Regions from separate parts of the Homo sapiens genome. Here region 1 is linked to region 2. Evidence: fine-mapped expression QTL. A gene starts in region 2. The other region holds a variant in brackets. All regions are shown on one strand. Distances are between the middles of the regions.

What was found. PIP is the estimated chance that this variant, and not a neighbour inherited with it, causes the effect. A credible set is the group of variants that fine-mapping cannot tell apart.
Region 1: its variant is the best candidate, but not a certain one, in a credible set for the expression of CSNK1D in whole blood (INTERVAL, PIP 0.58).

Annotation. Positions count from the first base shown.
Region 1 is chr17:82,304,374-82,308,753 of GRCh38, forward strand. No RefSeq gene overlaps it. Among named protein-coding and RNA genes, the nearest start is that of CD7, 11 kb to the right of the region's middle. The variant A/AT (reference allele first, on the strand shown) is at 2,275.
Region 2 is chr17:82,271,791-82,276,170 of GRCh38, forward strand. CSNK1D (casein kinase 1 delta) reads right to left here and starts at 1,910. Exons shown (of 9, transcript NM_001893.6): 1 at 1,516-1,910. The coding sequence starts at 1,591. LOC124904089 (a long non-coding RNA gene) reads left to right here and starts at 1,988. Exons shown (of 2, transcript XR_007065953.1): 1 at 1,988-3,283. RefSeq lists silencers at 1,310-1,359, 1,410-1,599, 1,840-2,049.

The DNA.
Region 1 (4,380 bases), 33 kb after region 2:
GGGCGAGAGAAGGGGAGGGGAGTGGAGGGGAGGCGAGGAAGGGAGGAGAGAGGAGCAGATGCGACCTGGCCCTGTCACGGGGAGGCTAGGGCCCCTCTACAAGGCTCCCGCCCTTCTTCCAGCTGCCCTCTGAGGCCCTCTGGCCTCTGAGCACCAAGAGCCCCAGGCTCCCCGCCTCCAGGCTGCTGGGTTCTGGCCGACCCACCCTGGTGGGAGCCGACTCATGTTCTCCCTGCTGACTCTGCGAGCCTGGAGGTGGCCCGGCCCCATCCATCCCCTCCCCTCCCCCTGCTCCCCACCCCTCCGCTCCTTGCCCCCTTATCTCCTTCCCTCTCCCTCCTCCCTTCCTCTCTTCCCCATGTCCAACGCCAGCTCCCGGGCCCCACTCCAGCTGCCCAGGCCACAGTGATTCCCTGTCCTGTCTTCTGAGGCCATTTTCCCAACAGCATTGGCTGAGGCAGGAGGATCACTTGAGCCCAGGAGGTGGAGGCTGCAGTGAGCTGTGATCGCGCCACTGCGCTCCAGCCCAGGCAACAGAAAGAGACCCTGTCTCAAAAAAAAAAAAAAAAGAAAAGAAAAAGAAAAAGAAAAAGTTGACTGAGTGTAAAAGTCACTTATTCTGAGGAACAAGAACCTACTCCTGGCTCCAGCTTTGCTCCTAACCTGGCATTTGGTTTTGAGGATGTTACTCAGGCCCGGAGCTCCCATTGCCACTCAACTGGGCATCCTCGTGCCTGGGGAGGCCCAGCACTGGCTCTAGGGAAAACGGGACATGTGGAAGGCTGGGGGCTGGAAATTCCTGCCATGGGGCTCGGGGGTGGTCTCAGTCCTGCCCCTGAGTTCCCGGTCGACCCTTGGAGAAGCTGCGGCAGATGGGATCTCTGACATGGGATCCGTGCTGGCGCCCTCCCTCCTGCAACACAGAACTAACAACCCCACCTTCAGGGCCTTTGATGCTGCGCACACACCACCGGCTCCGCGAGGCAGCCTGTCTGGCTGGACCTCGCTGAGGCCTGTTCACCCTGAAGCACCTGACCACAGACCTCAGCCCTCTTAAGGCCCTGGAGGGGGCCTGGCAATGTCCTCACCCGGCTGGGGTTGTATACAATTTGCTCAAGCTGTTTTGACAGCAGTTGGTCCAGACTGCCGTCTCCTCTGGCATCAGGTGCCCGGAGCAGTTCTGGGGCCCAGCTGAGGGACACTGAGCTGGGGTGTTTAGCTGGGCTTAGCTTAGTGGGGTATGTTGATGGCTGTGCAGTTGCTCCGAGACTGAGGATGTTGTTTCCAGCTGTCTGAGAGAGGGATGTTGCCCTGGATTGAATGGTGTCCCCTGAAATCCGTGTCCGCCTGGAACCTCTGAACAGGGCCTTATTTGGAGACAGGGTCTTGGCAGATGTCATCCAGTTGAGGTTACTGGATGGCCCTGAATCCCACGCGGCTGGTGTCCTGATGTGAAGAGAGAAACCACAGGCCTGGGAGAAGGCCACGTGACGATGGAGGCAGAGACTGGAGCGGCGCAGGCACAAGCCGGGAACGCCAGGGCCGCCGGCAGCCCCAGGAGCTGGGAGAGGCCTGGAGCCCGTTCTCCCTCAGAGCCTCTGGAGGGAAACAAATGATGTCACGACACTGTGGCCACCTGAAGAGGCGGCCAGAGAGCAGGCAGCAAGACGAAGCAGCAAAAATACAAGTGATCCACTCTGCTGAGTGACTGCTCCCCCCGACCCTCTGCGCTGCCCTGCATGCGGGCTTCCGTTACCACACCGTGTGTGAGCCCCCAGAGGCAGCTTCCTGCCTGTCTGTGTGGTCAAGTATGGTTATCTTTGGGTGTGGAGGAATTAAGAATTTTTATTCTCTTTTTCTTCTTTTTTTTTTTGAGACAGGGCCTTGCTCTGTCACCCAGGCTGGAGTGCAGTGGCACAATCTCGGCTCACTGCAACTTCAAACCCTGGGCTCAAGATATCCCCCTGCCTCAGCCTCCCGAGTAGCTGGGATTACAGGCACTCGTCACCACGCCCAGTTAATTTTTGTATTTTTTGTAGAGACTGGGTTTCGCCATGTTGCCCAGGCTGGTCTGGAGCTCCTGGGCTCAAGTGATCCACTCACCCCGGCCTCCCAAAGTGCTGAGATGACAGGCGTGAGCCACCGCGCCCGGCCTCGTTCTCATTTTCTTGCTTAGTTCCTGATGACAGTAAATGAGCATTTAAACAAGGTTTCATGTACACTGATGCTAGTGTCTGTTTTCTGTTTCACAAGCGTAGAGGTCCATGTTAACTA[A/AT]TTCATGACTTAGATCTGAAGGAGCACATTAAAAGCTTGGGCTTAAATGGGTGATGTATCTGGTTTTCTCTGTGGCTATATCATTCCTGGTTTGCATGTTTTGTCTTTATTTTTAGTTTCACCTGTGTTCATACTGGTTATATCTTATTCTATTGTTCCATTTTGTCAGAACATAAGATTGATGACTTTTGTTTTCTTCTGGTTCCTATCTGCCTCATAAGTTTTCTATCCTTTTATTTCCAACCTATTGGTGTCCTTTTGTTTAAAGTGTGTTTACAGGTGTGGTGGCTCATGTTTGTAATCATTGCACTTTGGGAGGCTGAGATGGGAGGGTCACTTGAGGCCAGGAGTTTGAGATCAGCCTGGGCAACACAGTGAGACCCGTCTCTACAAATAATTCAGAATAATTAACTGGGTGTGGTGGTGCACACCTGTAGTCTCAGCTACTCAAGAGGCTAAGGGAGGAGGATTGCGTAAGCCTGAGAGGTGGAGGCTGCACAGAGCTGTGATCGAGCCACTGCACATCAGCCTGGGTGACAGAGTGGGACCTTGTCTCAAAAAAAAAAGGAGAAAGAAAGAAAGAAAAGAAAAGAAAAGAAAAGAAGCCGGGCGCGGTGGCTCATGCCTGTAATCCCAGCACTTTGGGAGGCCGAGGCAGGTGGATCACGAGGTCAGGAGATAGAGACCATCCTGGCTAACACAGTGAAACCTCGTCTCTACTAAAAATACAAAAAATTAGCCGGGCGTGGTGGCGGGCGCCTGTAGTCCCAGCTACTCGGGAGGCTGAGGCAGGAGAATGGCGTGAGCCCGGGAGGCGGAGCTTGCAGCGAGCTGAGATTGCGCCACTGCACTCCAGCCTGGGTGACAGAGCGAGACTCCATCTCCAAAAAAAAAAAAGAAAGAAAGAAAAGAAAAAAATAGGTATCTTCTGTAGACAACATATTGTTGAATCTTTACATTTATTTATTTATTTATTTGTTTAGAGACAGGGTCTCACTCTGTCGCCCAGGCTGGAGTGCAATGGCACGATCTTGGTTCACTGTAACCTCCACCTCCTGGGTTCAAGTGATTCTCCCACCTCAGCCTCTCGAGTAGCTGGGATTACAGGCACCTGCCACCACGCTGGGCTAATTTTTGTATTTTTTCTTAGAGACGGGGTTTCACCATGTTGGTCAGGCTGGTCTCAAACTCCTGACCTCAAGTGATCTGCCTGCCTTGGCCTCCCAAAGCGCTGGGATTACAGGTGTGAGCCATGGCGCCCGGCCACCCAGCTTGATTTCTAAACCTCATCTTCATCTACATCTTGTTTCTGACAGGAGAAATGTCTCCACATGTTGCCACGTCCGTCAGTCTCCGCCTCCCTCTCTCCATGACATTGGTATTATCTAGAATTTTAGTTCTAGATTGTTATGTAGATTGAACATACATTGTAGATTCTGCGCTTTTTTTTTTTGTCATTGCTTTTTCTTTTTTGGACAAAATAAACTATCTGATTGCTTCTTATTTCTCTTGTAAGGATCTTCTTGTTTCGGTTTCTTCTTACTTGGATCCTGCCTCCAAGAGGGGTTTCAAAGTTAACTTCTCGGATGTGTCTTAAGACCTTATATGCAGCTAGGCGCGGTGGCTCACGCCTGTAATCCCAGCACTGTGGGAGGCAGACGGATCACTTGAGGTCAGGAGTTTGAGGCTATCCTGGCCAACATGGTGAAACCCTGTCTCTACTAAAAATAAAAATACAAAAATTAGCCTGGCGCGGTAGCACACGCCTGTCATCCCAGCTACCCAGGAGGCTGAGGCGGGAGAAAAACTTGACTCCAGGAGGTGGAGGTTGCAGTGAGCCAAGATTGCACCACTGCACTCCAGCCTGGGTGACAGAGTGAGACTCTGTCTCAAACAAAACAAAACAAAAACCCTTATATGCCTGAGAATATCTTTATTATATACTTAAATTTTATGATAATTTAGTTAGAGGCGACATTCCAGGTACAAACTTCTTTTCTTTCCACACTGAAGCATATTTTTTCCATCGTCTCCTTGAACCCAGAGTTGTCTTTGAGAATTCTGAGATCATCTGAGTTTGAGGATTCTCTGTCTGGTTTTGACGTT
Region 2 (4,380 bases):
CTGTCCACATGTGGCTTCATCTAAAAGGTATGACCAGAGGCATTACTGACATCCCAGGGGATTCCTGACCCTAGCTGACAGGTGCCCCAGTTAAAACACACCCCAAAGCTAGGGCTGCTGGAACAGAAAACAGCTCCCCTCAAAGGTCTGCAGCAGCCCCTCTGCAGGCACACCGCCTCAGGCTACATATCCTCAAATTCAGGGGATCTTGGAATAACTCGTGCATTGCACAATCCCACTAACAAGTGCGGAAAATTAAGTTACTTTAAAATTACAAACTTGGGCCAGGCGCGGTGGCTTCCCAGCACTTCGGGAGGCCGAACTGGGCGGATCACTTGAGGTCCGGAGTTCGAGACCAGCCTTGACCAACATGAAGAAACCCCGTCTCTACTAAAAATACGAAATTAGCCAGGCGTGGTGGCGCACGCCTGTGATCCCAGCTTTTCGGGAGGCTGAGGCAGGAGAATCGCTTGAACCTGGGAGGCAGAGGTTGCGGTGAGCCGAGATCACGCCATTGCACTCCAACCTGGGCAACAAGAGCGAAACTCCGTCTCAGGAAAAAAAAAAAAATTACAAACTTGAAGATTTAAGCCAACCTTTCATCACACTTGTGTTCACGTGCATATTTTTCCATTGTAAATATGACACAACCCAAAACCTTCTAATCCCATTGTTTTTGAAATCTACCTTGAGACTGTTACAGTCTAAAGGACACCTCATGAGTACAACTACCTCATCTGCCTCTCATCTTGCCAGCATCTTAATCCTGTGTGACTTTCTCTACATTCACCTAAACTTAACCCTTGCTCATTTGCACTCAGTCACCGCTCCAAGGCCAAGGGGAACCGTTCAGAGAGAACCCCCAGCGGGAGGGCAAGCCCCACTCCTAGCCGGGCCACTCCCCCGCTCCACACGGCATTTGGGTCTTTCTGACATTTTCCCCCACGAATGCAAGACACCGGGGCAGCCTCTGAGGGGGCAGCCAGACAGCCCCGGACCGGGCTGCGGAAGAAAGAGCGTGGCCTTTGTTTACTGCGGTGACCTTAGGCGTAGAGGAAGCCGACGCCCGCTTCGCGGCCCCAGCCCTACCCCCTCCCCTCCCACGGCCCGCTGCCCCCACCCCCGCCCTGCCCCTCCCCCAGGCCCGCCTCCCCACGCCCCACCCAGCCCTTCCCGAGTCCGCTCCCCACGACCCTGCCCCTACCCAGGTCGGCTCCCCAGAGACCATGCCCCACCCCGGGTCAGCTCCCCTATCCCCTCCTTCCCCAACCCTCCCCTCTCCAGACCCTGCTCCCCCGACCTGGTCCTGCCCCTCCCCCACGTCCGCTCCCCACTGCCCTCCCCACCCCTGGCCGCGCTAGCCTAGTGGCCGTTGGGTTCTGGCCACGATCCGGCGGTGCCGGGACTTGCGCGGAGACCCCGCGGGGGCCACCACTTCCTTCCGCGATCGCGCTTGGTCTTGGCAGCCGCAGGGCCCGGGTCTTCGGGCGGCGGGCGGGGGCGGCGGGGCCTCACCGAGATAGATGTCTCCGAAGGAGCCGCTGCCGATCTTCCGGCCCAGCCGGTACCTGTTCCCGACTCTCAGCTCCATGGCGGCGGCGGCCCGATTCGCTCCTGCCCTCCCGGCCGCTTCCTGGGTCTGAACTCTGGGAGGCGGCGCCGCTGCTGCCGCTACTGCGGGTCCGGCTCCCGGCTCCGCCCCCCTCACGGCCCCGCTTTCACCATCGCTTTCCTGTCGCCCCGCCGCTCCCAGCGCCTCAATACGGGGCGGATGGGACAGTCCGAGCGCCGCCGCCGCTGCTCCGGCCCCTACCGGTCCCGCTTGCCCTCTCCCCGCCGCGGATGGACTCGGATCTTCCGGGCCTAAATCCCCTTTCAGCTGCCTAAAGGAGCCGCCGCCATCGCGCTGTGACGTCACTTCCCCTAGCAACCCGGCGGGGCGGGGCCGCGGCGCTCCAGGGGCGGGGCCGGGCGGGGCGAGCGCTCCAGGCCTCCTCCCGACCCTGCGCCGTGCCCAGCCCCTCTGCCCTCCTGTTACCCCGGGACCTCGGGCCGCCAGCCCCTTCCACGTGCAGGCTCCTGCTGCTCTCGCGGGGGCTTTTCGTGTGTCCCCCGAGATGTCGAGGAAGCCAGGTGAGTTCCTCGCGACAGGCGGTGCCCTTTGCAGGAGGGGACAGGTAGCTGAGGCGTGGACAGAGTGACAGGCCAGGCTCAGGGGACACAGGTGAGACCCCCTCACTGGGCTGCCAGTTCCCGGGCTTGGGGCATCCCAGTACGTCAGCGTCTGCGGCCTTACCTCCTGACACCTAAGGCCAGAGACAGAGCAGGCCCGCGCCCTGGGAGGTCCTGATGTCCAGCCTGAAGATTGAGGACAAAGCCACCACCTTTCACAAAATGAGGCCAGACCACCTGCCTCCCTCCAGTCCCTGCGGCCTGGAGACGGAGTCAACATTCTTATCTGTGTTGGATCTGAATGTTCCTCCTTGCAAAGGAAACAAGGAGTGGACGTTCAGGCTGATGGCCAGCTTCAAAGATCGGGGCCTTTGATTCCCATCACTGGGAAGAAAGCCCTTCAGACAAGCCCCCCCAGGCTGCAGGTGCATGGGGACCTTGAAGAACCCGTCCCCATGGTCCCACGTCCATGTGTCTCGAGACCTGTCGCATCCTCGCTGAAACTCAAGAATGTGAAACAGGTGAAGGTGTGTTTTGACGCATTAGCATACCAGGGCTGTGGTGTGGGCACCGCCGTGTGAGTGAGACAGCAGCCTCAGCCCGTCCAGGTCACTGCAGAAGAGGAAAGCAGCCCCCACAGGCCCCACAGTGGTGCTCGCCTTTCTCCACCCCCCAGTCTTTCCTCTCCACCCCTCAGCTCCAAACAGCTGGAGGTCAGGTCGGGGAGACGGGCGTCCATTCCCGAAATTACATAGCAGGGCCTGGAGACAGGAGATGCCGCCGGCCAGACCACCATCAGTCACTAATGAGGGATGGGCAGTCGGAACTGCCCAGTTTCTGAGTTACAGAAGCCGGGGGTGGGGGGCTGCCAGACTAGTAAAACTGACCTTGTTGGCGGAATCGCTCACGGCTTTTCTGTTGATGAACAGAGTCCAGCTCTCCCACGGGTGGCTGTGATCCTTCTTCCTGGGGAGTCCTGCTGTCCCTGACTAGGGGCACCTGCCCACCTGTCAGCTGCTCCTCCCTCGGCTGGTCCTCCTGGGCTCTGATGGCCCCAACATTTCTAGCTCTTCTCACCCATAGTGCCCCAAGCTTCATGCAGCTGCGGCAGGTACTGTGCCCGTCTGCCTGGCTTTTGTGTGTTTGTGTCTTGACTCTATAACCCGTGCACACGGACTGGGCTGTGGTGTAGTGGGGATGGCAGGAGCCCTGGGAACATGCGGGCTGGGCAAGGTGAGGCAGGCTGATTGCTGTGGCTCCCCCACCACCAGCCCCAGCCACAACAAACTGACAAAGGAAGAGGACAGTGGTACCCTGGAGCCCTGGGGTCAGAGAGAGGAGGACAAAGCAGGTGTGTAGCCCAGGGAATGACAGCACCCCTTCCGAGAAGACAGGGAGGGTGCAGACATGGCCAGGTTCTGAGCTAGAAAACTGTCAGCAGGGGGCTGAAGCTGAGGATAGTCATTGCCAAGGAACAGCCTCCGTCACAGAGGAGACGCACAGATGCGGTGACGAGGGAGGGATGCGGGGCTGGTGACCGCTGGGAACGGATGTGTGAGGCAGAGTCTCCAGGCATGGTCTGTGGGGCGGTTTGATGATACTAGAACATCTCAGAGTAGAAGGACGTCCCGACCTGCAGACTGGAAAGCCCCCAGAGCTCCCGGCAGGACGTATGAGGGCCAGCCCACACCCAGGTCTGTCCTGATACAACTGAACGCCACAGTGTCTTAGCTCCTTTACTGTTGCTATCAAGAAACACCTGAGGCTGGGAAATTTATGAAGAATCATGAGGTAATTTGTATATTTGTCCACACTAAACCTCATGTTGAATTGTAAACCCCAAGGCTGGAGGTGGCTGGGTCATGGGGGTGGATTTCTCAGGAATGTTTAGTACCATCCCCTTGGTGCTGTCCTTGAGATAGTGAGTTCTCCTGAGATCTGGTTATTTAAAAAGTGTGGGGCACCTCTCTCTCTCGCTCACTCGCTCGCTCGCTCCTGCTCTGGCCATGTGACGTGCCCGCTCCCCCATTGCCTTTCACCATGATTGGAAGCTTCCGGAGGCCTCCCCAGAAGCTGAGCAGAGGCCAGCACCATGCCTCCTGTAAAGCCTGCAGAACCAGGAGCCAAGTAAACCTCTTTTCATTATTTATTTATTTATTTATTTATTTATTTTGACACAGGGTCTCGCTCTGTTGCCCAGGCTGGAGT